Linked DNA regions of Homo sapiens. The protein of the gene in region 2 purifies or fractionates together with the protein of the main gene of each other region. This does not show direct contact. Each region holds a gene or a part of one and is shown on either strand. Other genes may lie near its edges. The genes, in order: GLS, NIPSNAP3B, PDK2, PDK1, TMLHE, MCCC1 and ACSF2.

Evidence for each region.
Region 1: the proteins of NIPSNAP3B (region 2) and GLS purify together in Homo sapiens (affinity purification with mass spectrometry; one large-scale study listed by BioGRID and IntAct). This does not show direct contact.
Region 3: the proteins of NIPSNAP3B (region 2) and PDK2 purify together in Homo sapiens (affinity purification with mass spectrometry; one large-scale study listed by BioGRID and IntAct). This does not show direct contact.
Region 4: the proteins of NIPSNAP3B (region 2) and PDK1 purify together in Homo sapiens (affinity purification with mass spectrometry; one large-scale study listed by BioGRID and IntAct). This does not show direct contact.
Region 5: the proteins of NIPSNAP3B (region 2) and TMLHE purify together in Homo sapiens (affinity purification with mass spectrometry; one large-scale study listed by BioGRID and IntAct). This does not show direct contact.
Region 6: the proteins of NIPSNAP3B (region 2) and MCCC1 purify together in Homo sapiens (affinity purification with mass spectrometry; one large-scale study listed by BioGRID and IntAct). This does not show direct contact.
Region 7: the proteins of NIPSNAP3B (region 2) and ACSF2 purify together in Homo sapiens (affinity purification with mass spectrometry; one large-scale study listed by BioGRID and IntAct). This does not show direct contact.

Annotation. Positions count from the first base shown.
Region 1 is NC_000002.12:190,960,821-190,963,436, forward strand, and holds part of GLS (glutaminase kidney isoform, mitochondrial isoform 1 precursor), read left to right. Parts: intron 1-2,009; coding exon 2,010-2,166; coding exon of another isoform or gene 2,167-2,206; 3' UTR 2,207-2,616. UniProt on the Homo sapiens protein: Catalyzes the first reaction in the primary pathway for the renal catabolism of glutamine. Plays a role in maintaining acid-base homeostasis. Regulates the levels of the neurotransmitter glutamate, the main excitatory neurotransmitter in the brain.
Region 2 is NC_000009.12:104,774,129-104,778,264, reverse strand, and holds the end of NIPSNAP3B (protein NipSnap homolog 3B), read right to left. Parts: 3' UTR 501-4,136; downstream 1-500.
Region 3 is NC_000017.11:50,108,851-50,112,350, reverse strand, and holds the end of PDK2 (pyruvate dehydrogenase kinase, isozyme 2 isoform 1 precursor), read right to left. Parts: intron 3,065-3,500; coding exon 2,951-3,064; intron 2,395-2,950; coding exon 2,254-2,394; 3' UTR 199-2,253; downstream 1-198. UniProt on the Homo sapiens protein: Kinase that plays a key role in the regulation of glucose and fatty acid metabolism and homeostasis via phosphorylation of the pyruvate dehydrogenase subunits PDHA1 and PDHA2.
Region 4 is NC_000002.12:172,562,590-172,566,089, forward strand, and holds part of PDK1 ([Pyruvate dehydrogenase (acetyl-transferring)] kinase isozyme 1, mitochondrial isoform 2 precursor), read left to right. Parts: intron 1-151; coding exon of another isoform or gene 152-211; intron 212-1,521; exon of another isoform or gene 1,522-1,541; intron 1,542-1,913; coding exon 1,914-2,098; intron 2,099-2,388; coding exon 2,389-2,484; intron 2,485-3,500. UniProt on the Homo sapiens protein: Kinase that plays a key role in regulation of glucose and fatty acid metabolism and homeostasis via phosphorylation of the pyruvate dehydrogenase subunits PDHA1 and PDHA2.
Region 5 is NC_000023.11:155,511,953-155,515,452, forward strand, and holds part of TMLHE (trimethyllysine dioxygenase, mitochondrial isoform 1 precursor), read right to left. Parts: intron 2,314-3,500; coding exon 2,034-2,313; intron 1-2,033. UniProt on the Homo sapiens protein: Converts trimethyllysine (TML) into hydroxytrimethyllysine (HTML).
Region 6 is NC_000003.12:183,014,718-183,017,107, forward strand, and holds the end of MCCC1 (methylcrotonoyl-CoA carboxylase subunit alpha, mitochondrial isoform 1 precursor), read right to left. Parts: intron 850-2,390; coding exon 721-849; 3' UTR 501-720; downstream 1-500.
Region 7 is NC_000017.11:50,432,718-50,436,217, reverse strand, and holds part of ACSF2 (medium-chain acyl-CoA ligase ACSF2, mitochondrial isoform 2 precursor), read right to left. Parts: intron 1-3,500. UniProt on the Homo sapiens protein: Acyl-CoA synthases catalyze the initial reaction in fatty acid metabolism, by forming a thioester with CoA. Has some preference toward medium-chain substrates. Plays a role in adipocyte differentiation.

The DNA.
Region 1 (2,616 bases), on a different chromosome or scaffold from region 2:
AGTTGTAAAAAAGCACTATGATTAAAAACTCCTTTATTGGCAGTATTCTAAAACCTCATGTTAGGTTGACAGTCTTCTTCCCTTTCCCCAAATTTTAATACCCACCCCAGGTTTCTAAAGCAAAAAATTGAAGAGCATTTTCCTCCTGTGTTTATAATCCCAACTAAAACACTATGTAATACATGTTGGAAATATTACTGTGCTTTGTATATGTATTAATTTTTTTTGCCCTAAATTGGCCTCTAGGAATGTGAAAGTAGATGTACCCACCTGATAAGAAAAAGTGAGCTAAGTAACTAACTTGATAACTAGGCATTCAACAAGTCTTTTTCTCTATTTCATAGAATCAGTGTCACCTTAAATTATAATAGGTTTGCACAGAATTCGTGAATTCTTGAGATAGAGTCTTGCTCTGTTGCCCAGGCTGGAGTGCAGTGGCGTGATCTCGTTCACTGCAACCTCTGCCTCCCAGGTTCAGGCAATTCTCCTGCCTCAGCCACCTGAGTAGCTGGGATTACAGGTGTGTTCCACCACGCCCAGCTAATTTTTGTATTTTTAGTAGAGAGGGGTTTCGCCATGTTGGTCATTCTGGTCTTGAACTCCTGGCCTCAAGTGGTGCACCCACCTTGGCCTCCCAAAGTGATAGGATTACAGGCATCACTGTATCTGGCTGAAATTAGTGTATTCTTTAAAGTTCATATTTTTCATTAATTCACAGAAGAATTGTAAAAAAGGTAACACGCAGTTGACATTCCATTTTTCCAGAAAGACAGATAATTACATACTGTAGAGGATGACTCAAAAGTCTGTTTCAAGCCACTGACTTCCTAAACTAATGAAGGCCTATTCAAAGTCACTTAATTCAGCTGTTTTTTTTTTTTTTTTGATAAATACAAAGATACATGTAAAGTTTTACTTACCTGATTTTAAAAACAGGCTACCAAAATTTATCCAAATATATTAAAAAATGAGACTGTTTTAAAAACCTTTCGTTTCCATATTGTGACTCCACTAAGCGGGTAAAAAGTTCAGGACAGAGATGGAAAGGAAAGAAGGAAACAGGAAGAAGTGAAACTAGGAAGGTGGTGCCAGTGGCACATGGATGAAGAAAGAGAGATCATCAGCCATGGAGAATTTTGTAATGTAAGTAGAGAGAGAGATTGGGTAGGAAGACAGGCTTCACAGTTTGTAAAGTGTAAGGGAACTACCCATCGTACCCTGTCATTGACTAGGGCTGTGAGTTATGTAGTTCTGTCTCCTCTTGCAAAAGACTTACCACTTCTGGCAAGTGATTAACCACTTCTGGCAACTCTTCATTTCTTCTTATCCTTGAATATTCATCTACATCACTCTAAACAGCACAGCCCCAGAAGCATGGAAAGGGGAGTTATTAGTATGGAAAGGGGAGTTACTCTTCTGGTGTAGTGGTCCGATTGAGTCCATGGCTTCCCAGCCTTACCAGAGGTGATAAAAATGTCAATTCCTTTGGGGCCAATCTTGCTCCTCCAGTGTGTTTTAGCCCTAATGAGGTCATGGTTATTTCTAGACTTCTGAGACTTACTGTGGCTTTGAATTGACACAAACACTAATTTTCTGTCAAAGGCTAGAGTGATGGATGTTATATGCCTGAATTTTCTTTGAACATTTTATTTTAAAAGAGATACTTTGGGCTTTTCATGAAACTAAAATTCTGGAACCCTAGAGCAGTCTATTATATCTGTCACCACAAGGACTTTCCTTAAAAAGCTCCCTCCATAAGCACTTGGATGTGTAAACAAGATCCTTTCACAGATCTTTTTCTCTTCCTCTCCATATCCCAACTTGTCTTGGAGACTACTTTTTGAATTATAAATCCCTTTCTGCATTTCTATTATTAATTTTTATTTGTAAAATTGCTAAAATAGCTAAATTTGGCCATTTAACCTGCATTTAAAATCTAGGAATGTGGGGTGATCATCTTTGTACATAAATTACCTAATGACCCTGTCCATGCTGTGCTACGTGTTTAGGTGGAATAACACTCCCATGGATGAAGCACTGCACTTTGGACACCATGATGTATTTAAAATTCTCCAAGAATACCAAGTCCAGTACACACCTCAAGGAGATTCTGACAACGGGAAGGAAAATCAAACCGTCCATAAGAATCTTGATGGATTGTTGTAATGGTCTCAAATCCCAAGATTTAAATCACTTACCTATTTAATTGTGGAAAATGATTATGAAGAACATGTGTATTTCTATCTGGTAGTGATGTATATTTTACATTTGTCATTTCAGTGTTACTGGAGTTTTCTTCATTGTGCACACAGGACAAATCTGATCTCTTTGGGAAAAAATAGAAATAAAACAATCTCCCTCCATAATGTGAGCAATATTACCTCGTGCATTGTATAATTTGATGTAAAAGAAATAGTTACCAATGCTAGCTTGTGTGGTCTTCCATGATTTATTTGTGTTTTGTGAATTTTCAATTTATGGTGATGATCTGCTGATATGCATTTATAAAGTAAGCTCTGTTGTACAGTCTGTCCAAATGGGTCAAGGTTGCCTTTAGAAGCAAATAGTGTGATTTTCAAGACTTCAAATACAAATTTAGTTTAAGTGTTTGAACAA
Region 2 (4,136 bases):
GAGCGAAACTCCATCTAAAAAAAAAAGTGTGCAAGTTATTGGTACGTATATATTTAAGCCTCGGGACTGAATGAGATTACCTAGAGAGAATGAAGATAGGGAACATTCTTGAGCCTGAGATCCTATAACATTTAGAAGAGAAGCTAGCCAGGGAAATTGAGAGGGACTGGCCAGTGAGAGAGAGTAAAATCTGAAGAGTATAATGCCATATGTTGAAGCTCAGAGAATTATTGTTTCAGGAAGGCAGAAGTTGTCAATTATGTCCAACATTGCTGAGAAGATGAGTAAGGAATGTAAATGAGTAAAGGCAGGAATGGCTATTGAATTTGTTAAGACAGAGGTCCTTGGTGACCTTCCTAAGAGTCATTTCAGCATGACAAGGATGCAGACCTAACTGGAATAGATTTTCAGGGAAGACTGAGAGGCAAGGAAGGGGAGACTGCAAATATATGCAAATCTATATTTTTGCTTTGAAGGGAAACAGAAAACAGGACAACAGCTGGTTTACAGAACTTTTATTTGGATTCTTTCCTTGTCTGTTAATAATATAGGCTGCACCTGGGCATCATCGTGCCCTTCCTTTTTGATTCTGCTGTTTTGCTTTTAATCCTACAGGCATTTCTTCTGGCAGGAGCCTTGTACACACTCTGGGTGGTTCATGACCACCACGGACTTGCCCTTTCAAGGCAGAAGCCTGTGATTCAAAAACTTCCATTCCTTCCAATCGACTATTATAAAACTCATTTTGTCTAGTGCCCATACTCCTTTACCTTAGGATCCTGGGCCAACTGTCACTAAAGAAAACAAACCATTTCCTCCTCCTGGGGGAATGTGCTTCTTTCAAGAAGGTGCTTAGAGAATAGACATTCTAGGTGACAGCAGTTATGAAAGAGGTGTCTCTAATGAACCTAACACTTCTTCCAACATACTCCAGGTTCACCCTCCTTTGAAGACAGAAAGTACTACAACTTCAGTTGCCACCCTAGTCAGGTTCATAGGATTTACTCAGTAGGTTAAGAGATGGTGCTGAGAATGAAGTCCAGAGTTTGAGTCTACAAGTGGCATTTGCTTCTCCTTTGGGACTTCTGTGGCAGGGTGTGGAACCAAATCAGATTGGTTGCATATCTGTTTCTCTTCCTGAAAATACAATTCAAATACCTTCATAGTCTGTGACAGCAACTTATAACCAACAGACAATGGTATTATTTTTATTTATTGATGGCACTCCCCCATAGCCAGAACTTCTACTGAGTCATTCATCGTGTATTCCAGGAATACTTTCCAAATGGAGTAGTGAGGCACTTCCAATAACAGTTATGTAATCTGTTAACAGTGGCTCAAAATGACATGTGAAGGAATGATGTACTTCTTTTTTCAGACTCACAGATCTCATATGTTAATTCAGTCAACAAGTACTTAGGGCTTATCACATGCCAGGCACAGGTAATATGACAATAATGAAAACAAAAACCCTTGCTGTCATAGAATTCGGTTTCTAGTGGGAAGAGACATACATTAACAAATCATATATAAGTAAAACATTAATTATGGTGATAACAGAAAAAGAAAGCAGGGGAGAGGGATAGTGTCTTAGTTCAGGTTGCTGTAACAAGAGTACCATAGACAGGGTGGCTTAAACAACAAACATTTCTTTCTCACAGATCTAGTGGCTGGGAAGTCTAAGACCAGGGTGCCAGCATGAAGAAGTTCTGGTGAAGGCTTACATTCTGGTTTCCTCACAGTGAGGGCTCTTCACGCCCTTATAAATGCACTAATTCTATTACCCACATGACCTCATCTAAAACTAACTCACAAAGGCCAAACCTCCTATGTTGAGATTAAGGCTTCAACATAGGAATTTTGGGGGGACAAAAACATTCAGTCTCTAGCAGATAGGGGCCACTGTGGGAGGGGATTACAATCTTAAATAGGGTTGTCAGGGAAGGCTTCATGAGGGCAAAGACCTGAGGAGGCATGGAAATGATCCACGCAGATGCATGTCTGGGGAAGAGCATTCCAGGCAGAGGCAGTGGGAATGGACCCTCAGGTAAGAGCATGTTTAGCAAGTTCAGAGAAAAGCCTCTTAGGTCAGGTCTGGAGCGAGAGTGGAAAATGTAACAGGACAGATCATGTAAAGACTTGTAGACCACAGTTAGAGGCTTGGACAATAACTCTGAGGATGACATGAAGGTATTGGGAGGGGGTGTTGAGCAGAGGAGTGATATGATCTGGTTTATATTTTAGATTATTCTGACTGCTATGTTGAAAATAGGGTTGAGAGCAGAGGGGAAGGGCAGCACACCAGTTAAGACCACTTCCCAAAAATCCAGATGATGATGGGCTTGAACCAGGAGAGTTGCTATAGGGATGTGAAGCAATCAAATTCTAGATATTTGGGACCTGCTGACAGGTACATAATGGTGTATGAGAGAAAAGGCAGTGTGAGAATGACTCTGAAGTCTGTGGCCTGAGCAAAACAGAAACCTGGAGTTGCCAATAGCTGAGATAAAGTTTCTGGTTAAAGATCAAGAGCTCAGTTTTGGACAAGAGGGGTGTGAGATTTCTAATAGACATTCAGGTGGAGGTGTGGGGAACACACCTGGATGTGATGAGCCTGGAATTCAAATTCACATGTGTGAATTTGAAAAAAGATTCAGAAAAGAGGTGTGGACTGGAGGAGCTATCCACACACAGATAGCATTTGAAGCCACAAGACTGGGGGTGATGACGCAGGGAGTAAGTATAAATAGAAAAGAGAAGTGGTCCAAGGACTCAGTCCTTACATCAGAGGTCAAAGAGACAAGATGGAGACTAGGAGATATGAAGGCTTGTGCAGTGAGTGTTTCGGAGAAACGAAGAAACTTCCCAGAAGAAAGGAGAGGTCAACTGCTAACAAGTCAAGTGAAATGAGAACTGGGAAATGAGTTGACAAGAGCAATTTGGCTGGCGTGATCAGAGAATGTTTAAGAGATAATGTGAGGGAAGAAAATGGAGGCAGGAAGTATGAACTACTCTTTTGAGTCATATTGTAAAGGAAAAAAATGGGGTGATTTTACTCTTTTTTTTTTTTAAAGATAGGAAAAAAAAGTATATTTATATGCTGAGGAGAAGAATCCAGTTGAAGGGGAATACTGTGGCTTCAGGAGACAGGAAAACTGCCTAAGCCACATCCTTCAGCAAGTGAGTGTTCAAGTGGAGGGTTTGTCTTTGCTTGGGGCACGGGCGGTTCATCCACAGTGAAAGGAGAGAAGGCAGGGCATGTGGGGTTGGCTGTAGAAAGCGGGCAGACGGGGTGGGAACTTATGAAGACTCTTCTGATTGTTATTTTCTCTGTTAAGTAAAAGGAAAGGTCATTGGCTAAGAATGAAGATGGACGCGCAGGTGCTGGGAGTCATCGAAGAGAATGAAAGAATGAATAAAATAGAGAAAAATACAATGCTATTATATAAACCTATACATTTAAATTACTTTCCTCTTCAAATTAGACCCCCTGGAAGGCAAATCTCTGTCATGTTAAGTTTTAGGAAAAGTCATAATCTACTTGGAGCTAAGTATGAAGAATAAGGTATATGATTTAAACCACATAATTCTATTTTTGCTTAAACCGGGGAAGCCTTTAAGGTAACGTAGAGTGTACCCATTAAAAAAGATAAAAATGTCAGCTTCCCCTTCCCTTTAAATATAGTAAGGCTCAAAGGTAATTGATGTTCATAACCCTAAGGTACTATAACAGTCTGAAGCAAAATATTAAATGTCTTCTGTAGTATTTTAGTTAACTTTTAATTTTATTGGTAATTTATGTGTAGTTAACCACATACTTGTGCCTCAACTATTTCACATAAATGTGAGATGTCTTAGGCCTCTTTGAACTCTGCATGGAAAAGAATGCTGAGGAGGTATGTCTGTTTAAGCTGCCACTGCCTGCCTCTCATAAATAATATCTCACATTGCATAATAGCCCAGATAAACTGCAGATCGCTTAGAGCCTGATAAATGAGAGGAAACTGTACAGTTTGTTTTCCAAATTGCCCTTGGACAGCTAATTCACAATTTACTATTTTATAGCTGTAAGATTTTAAAAATATAAAATAACATAGCTGTAAATACAGATTATCAGAAGATAGTCTGTAAAAATG
Region 3 (3,500 bases), on a different chromosome or scaffold from region 2:
AGTCGCACTCAGGGTAGACTCCCAGCCAAACTCCTCAACAGGAGCGCAGAGAAAGCAGCCTGGGGCGAGTGCAGTCTTTGCCAGGACTCAAGAGGGGAGGATGAACATCCCCTTCTCCCTCTCCCCTCCTCTGTCCTGTGGGTCCCAGGGGGCGAGATGACACCACACAGGTCTGCCTCTCAGGGCCCATTCAAGACCTGGTCTTTGACCCATTCTCCAAGCCAGGACTCCCTTCACTTCCTGCTGCTTCCTCAGAGGGCACCTAAGTCCTCTTTGGGAGCTGAGCAAACAGGAACTGATAGGGACAGAGGACACCACTTCCACCAGCCAAGGCCTAGGAGCTGCTGACCTGGTCAGCCCTCACCCCAGCCAGGCAGAGAGGCAAAACCTGGGGGTCCCCGGCAGCTACGAGATTGGAAAGGTTCATCAGCCCTCCCCCATCTGCCCCAGGCATTGTCAGGGAATCAGTGGGCTCAGAACTGGCAGGCGGTGCAAGCTCTGCTTCCCTGGGCCACACTGAGGGCTGGGGCCAGCTCCCTGGATGGGGGTGGAGTTTACCAGCAGCCTGGGGACAGCATGTGTCCTTTTTAGGAAATGTCCTTGGAGGAAGTGTTCATGTGTGGCGCTGGTCAGCAGCTAGTCCCGCTTCCAGGACACTGGTCAGAGTTACCGATGAGGCCTGGGGGCTCCCGCTTGGAAACCCCTCCAGCTCCTCCCATCTGCCCAGACAGAGCGGCAGATGGCACCAATGCATGCTGGCTCCCTCATTCCTGCCCAGGGGCTGTGGCTTACGGCCAGCACCCTGTACCTGGGACTCAGCCCTTATCCCCCCTCTGCTATCTGTGCTGGGAGAGGGGCTTCGGAGGGAAACAGATATGAGGACACTGGCACCATCTGGGCCTGGTGGCAGGGCCATGGGAGGTTGGAAGGCACCCACATCCTTAAAGCCATCAGTAGCTATAGTGGGTGCCCACCTGCATGTGAAGGGGAGGCAGTTCTCAATTTATTTCAATAAATCCTTATGATGTGCCAGTGACCAGAATTTCTGTCTGCTCCAGTTGTTGGGTTGGCCGGACTCTGCTGGGCCCTGAGTATGGTGGGACAACAGGTCTGTCACCAGGTGCTGGGCCATCCGGCGTTCTGAACAGATGGCTTTGCCCAGTGTTTTACTCACAGTCCTGAGCTGGGCCGGACGTCCCCGGTGCGTCATGTGGTGGTCACAGGGCACCGCAGTGTGCGTGTGTACGTGCGCACGTGTGGGTCCCCTCCCCCAGGGATGCAGCCAGGCCAGTCTCATTCAGTCTCCTCTTTACTGTGGGTGTGGGTGTCACTGTCACTGCCACAGCCACTGGGAGGGACACACAGCTTTAACCCCTGTGTGCTTAGGGGAAGGGTGGGGGCATTCAGGGTTATAAAACTAACTATATACACAGAAGGTCCTAGGGAGAAAGCCACCCTGAGCACACATGTCTGGGCACAGTGGGGGCTGGGGGCTGGAGCTCAGGCAGGATGGACTAGGCTTGTGGAGGAGCGGGTGGGCATGAGCATGTGAGGACATGCTGGGAGGGCTCAGGAGGTGGCACAGACATTGCCAAGGCCACTGCAGGGCCTCGAGCAGCTTGGCTGGATGGCAAGCTCTCGGTCTAACAAGGTTCTTCCACTTTAGAGTTGGGCCCTGTGAGAGCCACCCCCTCCGCCACCGACCTTCAAGCCCTGAGCGGAGGGAGAGGCTGCAGGACCAGCCTCATTCCCCACTCACGGGTGTAACTCCTTTCCCCACTCAGTCCCCAGGTCTGGAGGGCACCCACCCTCTTCCTAACACTTCAGCAGGCCAAGGCCAGGGTGCCTTTGTGGGCTGGGGGAATAAGGCAACGGGACATCCACTTGGAAGGCCTGTGCTGTGGAGGGTGCTGAGGGGGACCCAGTACCCCTGGCAGAAAAGTGACAGCCCTGGTCTCAGAGAGGAGGACTGCCATGGGAAAATGTCTCTGGGACACCCCATCAGGGTGGAGACATCCCTAACCCTCAGGCATCGCCCACAGAGATAGGGAGGCCACCGAGGGGTCTCCACAGAGATGGACTGGCACTTAGGGACCATCACAGACCTATCACCGCAGTGACTTCCATAGAGACAGAACCTGGTCATCAGGGAGAACCCACCCCCTGCTCCCCCAGGAGGATGGTGAGGGGCACCACGGTGGGGGGACCCAGAGGCGGCAGTCCGTCCTCTCAGGTGCAGATGCACGGCGGCCCTTAGCTGACGCGGTACGTGGACGTGTTCTTGGGCTCCGTGCTGGGCACACACCAGTCGCCGGCCTCCTGGATGGTCTGGTAGTGGCGCCAGGCTGACTTGTTGTAGACAGGCAGGCGCTCCACCGAGTCCGTGGACAGGGCCTGGGGAGTGTCAGGGTCAGCCCCTCCCACCTCCCTGTGCCTTGTCCACTCCTCAGCAGACCACCCCACCCCAGCTCAGCGGCAGCCCAGCTGCCAGACACGGGGGCCTGGAAAGACCACAAAAGGGTGGTCCCTCCTGTGTCCCGCTCCTGCCCATTCAAGCAAGCAGCTCCCTCTAAGGGAGGGAGAGGGAGGGGGAGGAGGCTGGGCTGTGTGACCCTGAGCAAGTCACGGACTCCGGGCCTCAGTCTTCTCCTCTGAACTGAATGGCAAGACCTAGGGTGTCCCCTTCCTTCTGGGTCTAACAAGTCAAGGGTTCCCAGCACAGGGGTCTTAATCATAGACCACAGACTCCCCTAAATTCCCTGACAAGCAGTGCGTGTCTGGGGGTTGAGGGTTCTTCAGGTTGAGGAACTGTAGCTTTGCTTGGATTCTCAGAGTCTGGGGCCAGGGAAGGACTGGGGGGATGGAAAGGAAAGCTCGCAGCTGGCCAAGGCTGCCCAGGTCCTATCAGCAAAGCTCTTCTCCAGCTGGGCTCTGCGGGAAGGGCCCTCACCTTGAGATAGATGACAGCATCGGTCCCAAAGCCTTCCATGGAGAAGAGCTGCAGGTCTCCCTGGAAGTACTTGGCGTAGAGGCGGGAAATGGGGAGCCCATAACCAAAGCCAGCCTGCAGCGGGGCAGGAAGGCAGTGAGGATGAGGAGGCTGGCAGGGGCCTCCTGGAGCTGCAGGGACTGATGCAGGGAGGGAAGGGTGTGGAGCTGGGGTCACATGGCAGGGGTCCCAGAGCTGGGAGGGGACATGTGGGAGGGGACACTGAGGTAAGAAGTGTGTGTGGGGTGAATGGGGCAATCATGAATGCGGGAGGGAGGCTTGGGCAGAGAGAGGAGTTCCGCTCAGGGGCCAGGAAGTCAGAGCAGGCCCCACGGCTCCTTTGAGTCTCAAGTTTTCTAACAGGGAGGTGCTGACAAGTTGGACAACACCAGGAGAAAGGTAGAAATTGGGGGTTTGGGAGCTACAGAAGAGAGGGAAGATGGAGGAAAGGTGACAGAGAGACATCCGACAGGTGAGATCTGTGCAGACTGGGGAGATGTGGGAGGTGCGG
Region 4 (3,500 bases), on a different chromosome or scaffold from region 2:
AGCCCCAGCTGATCTTTGCCATATGAAAATACTGCCCATATCATCTGATTGTTTTCTGATTTTAAAGGAAAGCTACAAGTCTAGATTTGTAATGTAAAATCTCTCACTTTTGAAAGATTGGTAACTAATTAAAACATTTTTTAAAACACAGAAGGCCTAGAAGAACATGGTTGCAGGTCTCTAGTTTATGCTGTATGGCCTGCAAGATGATGTAAGTAATATGACAATGTTAATAACCCATATACCAGAATTGGTAAACCAAAGTATTTGCCTTATGCAGCTACCTGCTTATTGCAGTGAAGGGTACTGAGAGTGTAATGACCATCTCTTGTCCTCAGTTAGTTACACATGTTTTTTGGACTGTCTTTAAAGTGAACAGTAACACTTCATTTTTTTAAACATGATTTTAATCTGAAAATAACTTCAGCAAGAGTTTACTCCTTGCTTAGGTATTGAGCAGACTTTACATGAATGATGTTTTTTAATCTTTAAAACAATTCATTGAAATAATGCTGTTTGTGCACAAAGAGGGTAAGTAGTTTAAGGTTACATAGTTAGCAAATGGTAGAATCCAAGCAGTCTTACTTTAAAAGTAAACATTATGTTATAGAGCCTTCTGAAAACAGTCATTCAGAGCTGTGGAAAATAAGTAGTCAAGCAGAATAATACAGATTTGTGTTTCTTTGAAGCAGAAAGAAAATAATAAAGGAGTGACTAGAATGATGAGTTGTTTGTTGTTTTTGAAGAGTTTTGTTGTTTGTATTTTAGTTTAACAGTCTTGTTTTGAAGCGCATTACTAACTAGGAATTCCAAAAATGTTTTAAGCAGTGGAAACATCATTGGAATAAGTTAATAGTACTCAGGATGATGACTTTGAATAGGAAAGCACTCATTTGGAAGTGTAAATTCAGATGGGTTATGTTAGAAAATTGGTTTCGTTACTGCATAATTAAGACTTCTTGGGCCGGGCACGGTGGCTCACGCCTGTAATCCCAGCACTTTGGGAGGCCGAGGCGGGCGGATCGTCTGAGGTCGGGAGTTCGAGACCAGCCTGACCAACATGGAGAAACCCTGTCTCTACTAAAAATACAAAATTAGCCAGGCATCATGGTACATGCCTATAATCCCGGCTACTCAGGAAGGCTGAGGCAGTAGAATCACTTGAACTCGGGAGGTGGAGGTTGCAGTGAGCCGAGATTGCGCCATTGCTCTCCAGCCTGGGCAACAAGAGCAAAATTCCATCTCAAAAAAAAAAAAGACTTATTTTCTCTTTTATTTAGTTATTTAACCATGCAGTGTCTTCTAAGTGACAGAGATGGGAAGACTAGATGATTTGAAGATTTGTCTTTTAATATAATTGTTTACTTTTCCTCTCCCATTTTATAAACTCATAGGATGAGTGAAATGAGAATTCTTTTCTGTTTTTCTGTCCTAAGTGTTTCCTTCTCTCTTTGAACCCTAGGGAATAGGTCCAAAACAGGCAGGCTTTATTGGCTCATTCATCTTGATTCCTTGCAGAGCAGAGCAGGTGTTCTCTAGAGGCAAGTGCTTTGTCTCCTCCTATGCAGAATGTCTCTGGAATACCATCCTCTTAGCCAGTGCTCAGATGACCTTAGTTGATAACAGTTAAAACCATTAACATTTTTTGGATTACGTTTTGTGGCAGCCTTACTCTTAGGAAGCCAAGAAAAGAATTAAATCTTGAAAGTTTTATTTTGGAGGTCTGTATACTTTCATAGATTTGGTATATTTTATGATCTGAAATACATTTAAATAAGTATAGGAAAACATGAACCGATTTTCCTTTTATTAAATTGGGGATTTTTTGTCTAGCATAGTTGGTTAAGCTTATATTTTTGTATTAAGTTTACTTGTCAAAATATTTGGCTGTTTTGACAGATGGGTTTGTTTAGCTTTACAGATACTGTGATACGGATCAGAAACCGACACAATGATGTCATTCCCACAATGGCCCAGGGTGTGATTGAATACAAGGAGAGCTTTGGGGTGGATCCTGTCACCAGCCAGAATGTTCAGTACTTTTTGGATCGATTCTACATGAGTCGCATTTCAATTAGAATGTTACTCAATCAGCACTGTAAGTGTCCCTCATGAGTCAAGAGAAGAAGCTAAATGAGATGTGTTGGCATATTTTAAATTTATTTAGGAAAGTTCCATTTAGGTAGGAAATTTAGTTTTACCTTTTGGCTAATTAAGAAAAATAAATAGACTGCCATCAAGAAAGGTGTTTTTATTGAATGTAAAATACTATGTTTATCCTAAAGGAAAATATTTGTTCTGTTTGGTACAATTTAAACAGTATTCAGATTTGGAAAAGAGCATTAGGTGGTTTAGCTTATTTTGTTGGTTTTTTTCCTTTTTGGATAGCTTTATTGTTTGGTGGAAAAGGCAAAGGAAGTCCATCTCATCGAAAACACATTGGAAGCATAAATCCAAACTGCAATGTACTTGAAGTTATTAAAGGTAAATACTGACATTTCTCCTTGCAAAAAAAGATACAAAAATCAAAATTATTGTTATTTCTTACTATTAAAACATCTATTTGTATCATGAGATAAAATGGTAGGCACAAATGCATGGGTTTGAAAATAACCTTATAGTATTATTTGTGCATTATGTATAGGATGACTATTTTATTGATAGAATTATTTGTTAGGCAAAGTTTGGTGATACTATAGAGGATATCTTTTTTGTTTTGTTTTGTTTTGTTTGAGACAGAGTCTCACTCTGTTGCCCAGGCTGGAGTGCAGTGGTGTGATCTCAGCTCACTGCAGCCTCTGCCTCCTGAGTTCAAGCGATTGTCTTGCCTCAGCCTCCCCAGTAGCCGGGATTACAGATGCTCAACACTACGCCTGGCTAATTTTTGTATCTTTAGTGCAGGCAGGGTTTTACCATGTTGGCCAGGCTGGTCTGGAACTCCTGCCTGCCTGCCTGCCTGCCTCGGCCTCCCAAAGAGCTGGGATTACAGGCGTGAGCCACCGAGCCCAGCTGAGGGTATCTTTCACTTAAAAAAGAATTGAAGTCCCTACTGCCCTGTTTCTAATTCTTACACTATGAGCAGTAATTCATAACAATTTGGTTTGAATCATTTCACACTTTTTTCTATTTATACCACTTGTACACATACACAATTGATGTTGGTCTTACATTGTTGTTTTTAGAAAATGGGGTGCTCTATGTTTTTTTCTACAAGTTTACAGACATCTTGCTGTTCAGTACATCTGGATATGCTCCAAGGTTTTGAATGGCTCTATGGAATGTATCAGTATGTGTTAATTAATTCTCCTGTTCATGCACACTTAGGTTGTTTTAATTTTTTTCTGTTACCACCAATACCAGCAGTACTGCTGTGAACATCCTTAAATACACGCTCACTTTTGCTAGTATTTTAGAGGTGAGATTCCTAGAATTAAAAACATTTAAATGCATATAAAATTTTGGTATCTCCAAAAAGGTTTCAAACAATGGATAAGAGTGTT
Region 5 (3,500 bases), on a different chromosome or scaffold from region 2:
AGTCTTGACAATTCTGTCACTTATTAACATTCTAGAAAGTTGGGGAGAAAACTGTGGAAGTATAATATTGTATTATGAAAGCTTGGAGAATCATCCCACTCTGATTATGTGCCCAGTTTTCATAGCCTTCATAAATTCAAGGTTCTTTTCTATGCTCACCTTTCTTTCACAGAAAAAGATATAGCTGCTTCTGGAAGTGATTTTTTTATTTTATTTTATTAATTATTATTATACTTTAAGTTTTAGGGTACATGTGCACAATGTGCAGGTTTGTTACATATGTATACATGTGCCATGCTGGTGCGCTGCACCCACTAACTCATCATCTAGCATTAGGTATATCTCCCAATGCTATCCCTCCCCCCTTCCCCCCACCCCACAACAGTCCCCAGAGTGTGATGTTCCCCTTCCTGTGTCCATGTGTTCTCATTGTTCAATTCCCACCTATGAGTGAGAATATGCGGTGTTTGGTTTTTTGTCCTTGCGATAGTTTACTGAGAATGAGGATTTCCAATTTCATCCATGTCCCTACAAAGGACATGAACTCATCATTTTTTATGGCTGCATAGTATTCCATGGTGTATATGTGCCACATTTTCTTAATCCAGTCTATCATTGTTGGACATTTGGGTTGGTTCCAAGTCTAACTTTATTTACTATTTTTATAGCTGTTGTCTTTTATTAGTACCATTTTTTCAATAATGGTGGTCATTTCCTAATATTTTGGATAATCCAATTTGCAAGGATGACTGAAGAGTTCTCATATTATTTATAAGACACAGAAGTGATTAATGTAGATCCTCACTCATCTTTTGGACATGGAGGAATAAAGAAAAGAGAAAAGGATAGTTTGTGTTAGCAAGTATTTAGTGAGACTTGCTGTACCATTGTTGTTGTGTCTCTCCTTGAAGTATACATCATATATTTTGATTTTGTAATTATTTTCCTGTTCGGCTCAAATCTGACTAAAGGTCACTTTAATTCTTTAGCTTTCAAAGTTCATCTTATTTTCTGAACCCTTGAAGTTCAAATAGGAAATGCTCTTCCTTTTGAACTATCATCCCTAAAACTGTCTCAATTTATCACTTACCAGCACAGTTTCTTTCACTTGAAAGTTCTCAAACTGTGATTCAAACTGAATGGCTCACAGATGCTGTTGATTATGCTCTACCAGCACAGGGAAGAAGACCCAGCATACTATCTACTACAAAATGAGCTATATCTGGATCTTATTAAGTAAAAGGAAAGTACTAATTATAATAAAGTAGGTTGACATCACACTTAATACTATAGAAGATCAATCTATATACCACCCAAAAGTGCGTAATGGTAATGAAAAAAACAATGTATTTAGGATTAGGAAACCTGGGCTATTTGAATTCAAGTTCTATTGTTTACTAGTAGAGCACTCCTGGGCAAGACACTTGGTATATTTGAGTGTCAGTGCCTCAGCAGTAAAACGGGGACAAAACACACACTGATCAGGGTTCCTATAATAATTAAAAGAAAATAATGGGTGGGAATGTGCTGGCTGAATGCTATATAGCCTTTTAAGGCAGTGTTATTAACAATCAGTCTCTGAATCAAGCCACAGGAATCACAGAAGGTCAAATTGAACAGATGGGAAAATAGAGGACAGTGGGGGTCGAGGGGGTGTGTGTGTGTGTGTGTGTGTGTAATGGACATGCCTATGGTCACACAACTACTTGATGGTAGAACTCAGACTACTATCCAGTTCTCCTTACAGTCAGTGTTTTTTTCCAGTGTACAATAATACCTGTCACTTGGGATCACTGGGCTAGAAACATATTACCAATGACTCTGCAGTCATCATTATATTTTACACATAAGTGTATTTAGAGATTAGAAATCCAGACCTCAAATAAAGTACTGCAAGTGAGAGTCCCTTATTCATGCTACAAAATATTCTGGATTGAAAACGAGGGTGACCATACCTGTTACATTTATTTATTGGTGTTCATGCTCTGGAAATTAATTATAATACTGTGGATTTTAGGAAACAAATGAATTACCTGATTAAGCTGATCCTTTCTGCCAACTTCTCTGTGTGCTCTTGAGTGGGAGGGACATTTTCTACGAATGCAATTCCATAGAGCAGAAAGTTTTGCAGAAACTTCTTCAGTCCCTCGTTGGTTTCTAAGAAGCTCTGGCAATCTACCGATGGAACTTGGGCTTGCTGGTAGATTTCAGCATTCCATAGTATTCTAGGCTGGATGACTTTTTGTTTCTGCCCTTCATAGCTGTTTTTCACCAGCCAATTCAAATCATATTTAGTCACATGACCATCTGGCCCTTTTAAGGGGAAAAATAAAAGGCACTATAATAATTACAAATAATGTCAATATTTGTAATTGGTTACAACTAGTTAAGAATCTTTTTCCTAGCAATCAGTTATCCAGTACTGTATTGTTTATGAAACCAAATTAAAATGAATGCCTAGAATGTTTCTGAGAAAGAAATATGTGTGGTTTGAGTGGTATGCATGAATAAATGAATGAACAAATAAATCTTCCCAGAGGCTAAATAAGTTTACAGAATTATAGTTATATAGTAAAAGATCTTCTGGAAAATTCATCAAGTCATCAAAGAATGATAATCCAAGTAGGCTTTTACAAGCCTACTTGGCACTCTCTCCCCTTGCCCCCATCCCTGTCTTCCATCTATATAGGAACTCAGAATGTTTGAGCTAGAAGGGGCTAATCTTTATTTTACAGATGGAGAAAAAGTCAGTGACTCACTCAAGATCACACAACTAAGTACTATAGGTGGAACTAGAACCCCACCTTCTTGCTGCTACAAGTTCAGTACTATTCAATGCTGCCTTCCTCTTCTACATGATGTAGGACATTGCTGTCTAATTATATGACATCAACACAATACAATAAAATTACTTTGTAAGTGGCTTCACCTGCTGTGCACACCCCACCCAAAAAAAGTTGAAAACCAACCCTGAAATGCTTTAGAAAATCTTCAGGATAAGCAAAGGAAGCAGCAGAAGGAGTGAAAGACTATGTTGACAACTTGTCTCTCCTTTTTACTTCTCTCTCTTTTCCTCCCTCCCCTTGGTAAAAAAGTATCACACTTTGGATAATTTGGAAAGCATAAAAAAGTATGAGGAAATTAAAAGTCACCATGTTTATCATTCTATCACCCAGATGAAACTATGATTGACAGCCTGGCATCATTCCTTCCAGTTTTTCTGTACATTCTCTTATTTTATGTAATTTATGTATATAAATATAGTTTATGTAATTTATATATATAAAATTTGGGACTCTGCCATTGTCACTTAACATTTTAACAATTTTTAAAATTAAATTTTATCATTTTAAAAATTCAACCTTCATTAAAATTAATTTTTAAAGCTTACAAAATATACATTACCAAGATTTACCTAACCCATCTGTTATTCTGGGTATGTACATTTATTTTTAAAAAATTTCCTATTATTTATTAGTGATCATCTTTAACCATATTTC
Region 6 (2,390 bases), on a different chromosome or scaffold from region 2:
TATGTATTTGTTTTGAGATAGAGTCTCGCTCTGTCACCCAGGCTAGAGTGCAGTGGTGCGGTCTCGACTTACTGCAACCTCTGCCTCCCAGGTTCAAGCGATTCTCCTGCCTCAGCCTCCCAAGTTGCTGGGACTACAGATGTTCACCACTACACCCAGCTTATTTTTTGTGGAGACGGGTTTCACTATATTGGCCAGACTGGTCTCGAACTCCTGAACTCAAGTGATCTGCCCGCCTTGGCCTCCCAAAGTGCTGGGATTACAGGCGTGAGCCACCGCGCCCGACTAATATCCATGTCTTTTAAACTACCTAGCAAGTTGCTTTTTGGCCAGACAAAACCTTAGTTGTTGAACTCCAGGGCACCTGTCTCTGAAACATATTACTGCTCATTTTCATCATAACAGCAACTGGAAAGTAATTCATTTAATTAAATGTCCTTTTCTCTTCCCCCCTTCCTAAAAGAGACTACCTTGTAAAAAATTTGAGGCAGAAACAAACATTGGCTTCCAATAAAAAATAATTCAACTTTATTAGTATGAAATATTTTGAGATAATTAGTGACCCAAATGCATGATTCTCCAATATGAAAGGTGTTCAGCATAAGCATACAATCATTTAGTAAAACTGCTCTTTATGAGACCCCCAGAAAAGCTGGAGGCACTTCCTCTTTTTGGTGGAGAGAGAAGACACTACTTAACTGGCCATTTCCTTGCTGGAGTTTATTCCGATTCCCTTTTGTCTGATTCTTCCTCCTCAAACTCGACTAAAGGAGTGTGTCTGTTGGCCTGAGCACCTTCTCTGTAGAACACTTTCTTTACTGTGCCATCCTTTGGAGACTTTATGGTATGCTGCAGAGACACATGACAGGACAAATGATAGCTGCAATACTAATGAGGACTGAGTATACACCAAGTCAAGAAAGGGAGACCAAAAATGAAAACTGTAGCCAACTTTGATGTTTTGTCATCTCTCGGTGCTTTCCAACGCTTTGTTGTTGTTGTTGTTTTTATTTTTAACATCACAGCACACAGGGAGAACAGTAACAAGTTGAGAGGAATGAACACTGGGACACAGCAGTAACCTTTCAACGATATGACTGGGAAGCTCTGGTGTAGCTCGCAGTTCTCAACTTGAGCTTCACATGAGAATTGCACCTAGGAAGCTTTCAACAGTTTTTTGTTTGCTTGCTTTTGTTTTTTTTTTTTTGTTTTTTGTTGTTGTTGCTGTTGAGACGGAGTCTCACTCTGTCACCCAGGCTGGAGTGCAACGGCATGGTCTCAGCTCACTGTAACCTCTGCCTCCCGGGTTCAAGCGGTTCTCCCACCTCAGCCTCCCAAGTAACTGGGACTACAGGTGTGTGCCACCACACCTGGCTAATTTTTGTATTTTTAGTAAAGACGGGGTTTCACTATGTTGGCCAGGCTGGTCTTGAACTCCTGACCTCATGATCCACCCACCTCGGCCTCCCAAAGTGCTGGGATTACAAGCGTGAGCCACTGCGCCTGGCCTTGTTGTTTGTTTTTTTAAATTGAGACGGAGTCTCGCTCTGTCACCCAGGCTGGAGTGCAGTGGCAAGATCTCGGCTCACTGCAACCTCTGCCTCCCAGGTTCAAGCAATTCTCCTGCCTCAGCCTCCTGAGTAGCTGGGATTACAGGCATGCACCACCATGCCTGGCTAATTTTTGTATTTTTAATAGAGATGGGGTCTCACCATGTTGGCCAAGCTGGTCGTGAACTCCTGACCTCAAATGATCCGCCTGCCTCTGCCTCCCAAAGTGCTGGGATTACAGGCATGAGCCACTGCGCCCAGCCTTTCAAAAGTATTGATCCTTGGGCTCTACTCCTGGAGATTGCAATTCAATGGGTCTGGGGAAGAATTTTTTCAAATCTCCCCAGGTGACTGTACACATGCTCCTTGACTTACGATGGGGTCAGGTCCAGATAAATCCAATGTAAGCTGAGGAGCATATTCAACGTGTATGGTTTTGCACCATTGTCAAGCTGAAAAATCCTTAATTGAACCATTGTAAGTTGAGGACTGTCTGCAATATTCAGCCAGGGCTAAGAATCACTGACCTACCATTTGAACCATCTAAAAACCTAAACAGCTAATTTAATTTGATTGCGGTTTTCACTTTGAAACTGATGCCTGGCATCCTTGGTTCGGCCTTAGAACCAAGATAATACCAACAGTTAACATTAGAAAATACCAACAGTTAACATTCCAGAAACACCAACAGTTAACATTCAGTTGGATTATCTTAGAAAATACCAACAGTTAACATTCAGTTGGATTATCGCCTGATTCCAAGCTATTGATAATTTCATTAATTTCAGAATCAGAAATGACAGGTGCAATTTCACAAAGTTAAAGTAAAACTCTTTTCTA
Region 7 (3,500 bases), on a different chromosome or scaffold from region 2:
GCGGAGGTTGCAGTGAGCCGAGATCGCGCCACTGCACTCCAGCCTGGGCAACAGAGCGAGACTCCGTCTCGAAAAATAAAAAATAAAAAAAATAAAAAATAACAACAACAACAACAACAAAAATGAACTCTGACTAAGTCTCACATTCTATATAAGCAAAAATAAAATGAATCAGACTTAAGTGTAAAAAAAAATTATAAAATCTTCTGGATCTAGAGCTAGGCAAAAAGTTATTAGGCTTGACACCAAAAGCAAGATCCATTAAAAACAAACAAACAACAAAAAAAAACACTCACTGAGCGCTGGGTGCAGTGGCATGCACCTGTAATCCTAGCTACTTGGGAGGCTGAGGCAGGAGAATTGCTTGAACCGAGGAGTTGGAGACCAGCCTGGGCAACATAATGAGATCCCATCTAAAAAAAAAAACTCACTAAACTAGACTTTATAAACTAGACTTAATAAATTAGACTTTATAAAAAAATTTTTTTAAATTGCTATATGGGCTGGGCATAGTGGCTCACGTCTGTAAAGTAATCTTAGCACTTTGGGAGGCTGAGGTGGGAAAATCACTTGAGCACAGGAGTTGGAGACCAGCCTAGGCAACACAGTGCCATCCATCTCTATGAAAAAATTTTTTAAATTAGCTGGGCTTTGTGGCGTGTACCCATAGTCCTACGTACTTGGAAGGCTGAGGCAGGAGGATCACTTGAGCCCAGGAGGTTGAGGCTGCACTGAGCCGTGGTTGCACCACTGTGCTCCAGCCAGGGTGACAGAGTGAGGCCTTTCTCAAAAAATTAAAAAAAAAAAAGGATTAAAAAATTTTGCTCTGCAAAAGACCCTTTTAAGAGGATGAAAAAAAGCTACAAAGTGGGGAAAAACATTTGTAAGCCACATGTCTGACAAAGGAATAATACTAGAATACATACAGAACTCTGAAACATTGAGCTGTTTAATACGTAAAACTCACTTTTGTGAGTTTTTGTCAAGGTTAATGAGCTGCTCCTCCCAAAAGCACTCCTTGGCTTCTGAGCAAAAAAAGCCAGACACAGGCCAGGCACGGTGGCTCACGCCTGTAATCCCAGCACTTTGGGAGGCCGAGACGGGCAAATCACCTGAGGTCGGGAGTTTGAGACCAGCTTGACCAACATGGAGAAATCCCATCTCTACTAAAAATACAAAATAAGTCAGGCGTGGTGGCACATGCGGGTAATCCCAGCTACTTGGGAGGCTGAGGCAGGAGAATCGCATGAACCTGGGAGGCGGAGGTTGTGATGAGCCAAGATTGCGCCATTGCACTCCAGCCTGGGCAACAACAGTGAAACTCTGTCTCAAAATAAAAAAAAGAAAAAAAAAAGATCTGTGCAGTTTACTGTATGTAATTATATCATAAAGCCCCATGATCTTTCTACCACTCGACATAACCACCCTGAGGAGTATGTGACCTCTGAAAAATACCAACTACAAAGAACAAACTACAAACGACTACAAAGACTAGTAAGGACTACAGTAAAAAAAAAAAAAATTATTTTTTTGAGACGGAGTTTTGCTCTTTTGCCCAGGCTGGAATGAGGTGGTGCTATCTCGGATCACTGCAACCTCCACCCACTGGGTTCAAGAGATTCTCCTGCCTCAGCCTCCCGAGTAGCTGGGATTACAGGTGCATGCCACCATGCCCAGCTAATTTTGTATTTTTAGTAGAGATGGGTTTTCGTCATGTTGGCCAGGCTGGTCTTGAACTCCTGACCTCAGGTGATCCACCTGCCTCAGCCTCCCAAAGTGCTGGGATTGCAGGCATGAGCCACCGCACCCAGCCCAGTAAAGATTTTGAACAAGATACTCTATATTGGTGGAAGCTTCCATTCTCAGCATCTTGTTTTGTTATTATTATTATTATTATTTGAGACATGCTCTCACCCTGTCACTGAGGCTAGAGTGTGGTGGCATGATCACGGCTCACTGCAGCCTCGACTTCCTGGGCTCAAGCAATCCTCCTGCCTCAGTCCCCCAGGAAGCTGGAACCACAAGCACATGCCACCACACCCAACTAATTTGTAAAAAGTATTATCTGTAGAGATGGGGTCTCCCTATGTTGCCCAGGCTGGTCTCAAACTTCTGGGCTCAAGCGATCCTCCCACCTCAGCCTCCCAAAGTGCTGAGTTATAGGTGTGAGCCACTGTGCCTGGCCCATTTTCAGCATCTTGAATGGAACCACTGGTGTGTTTGTAAGTATGTACAGAAAATACATAAGAAGTGATAATTTGGGTTTAGAAAACTCTCTCAAGAAGACATAGAAGGGCCAGTGCGGTGGGTCACACCTGTAATCCCAGCACTTTGGGAGGCTGAGTTGGGAGGATCGCTTGAGCCCAGCAGTTTGAGACCACCTGGGGCAACAAAGTGGAAATCTGTCTCTACCAAAACAAAATACAAAAAATTTAGCAAGGCATGGTGGTACACACCTGTAATCCCAGCTATTTGGGAGGCAGAGGTGGGCACATCACCTGAGACTGGGAGGTCAAGGCTACAGTGAGCCGTGATCACGCCACTGCACTCCATCCCAGGTGACAGAGTAGCCTGAAATACTTGGAGTCAGGAGGCATCCATGCTGCAGGTTTTCTTTTGGAATAGCTGGACAGAGACCCCAGGAGAAGAGTGCCTAGGAATCAGGGATGGGGGCTGAGTCAAGACACTTGTCCCTTGATAGGATTACTAAAATACATACAAGGCTAGATATTAGTTTTCTAGGAAGAAAACCTTTGAGGTAGCCAGGTGCACATGGTGGTTTGTGCTTGTAATCCCAGCTACTCAGGAGGCTGAGGAAGTAGGATTGTTTGAGTCCAGTAATCCCAGCATTTTGGAAGGCCAAGGCAGGCGGATCACGAGGTCAGGAGTTTGAGACCAGCCTGGCCAACATAGTGAAACCCCATCTCCACTAAAAATACAAAAAATTAGCTGGGCGTGGTGGCAGGTGTCTGTAATCCCAGCTACTTGGGAGGCTGAGGCAGGAGAATTGCTGAACCCAGGAGGCGGAGGTTACAGTGAGCCCAGATCGCGCCACTGTACTCCAGCCTGGTGATAGTGCGAGACTCCGTCTCAAAAAAAAAAAAAAGAAAAAGAAAAACATATTTAAGTGTGTGTGTGCGTGTGTGTGTATAAAACAAAACTTGATGCTTCTTTTTGCTCAGGGGACTACAGAATTACAGAATGTCAGGTTAGGAAGCTGCATACTCAGGGTTCATAAGAGACCAAGTGAAATTTCACACACGTATGAAGGCTGCATACTTCAAATCACAGCCTTATTGGGTTTAGGGATCAGGCTCAAACTCCAGCCTCTTTAGGAATCACAGAATCTTCTCCCAAAGGTAGAGCACATCTTGTCCAAACAGCCTATTTTACAAACAAACTAAGGTCTGCGGAGGTTCAGTAACTTGCCTAAAGCCACACTAAGTTAGGACTGGTAGGACTGGGATTTGCTTTCCCGTCAACTAACTCCCAAATGGAGG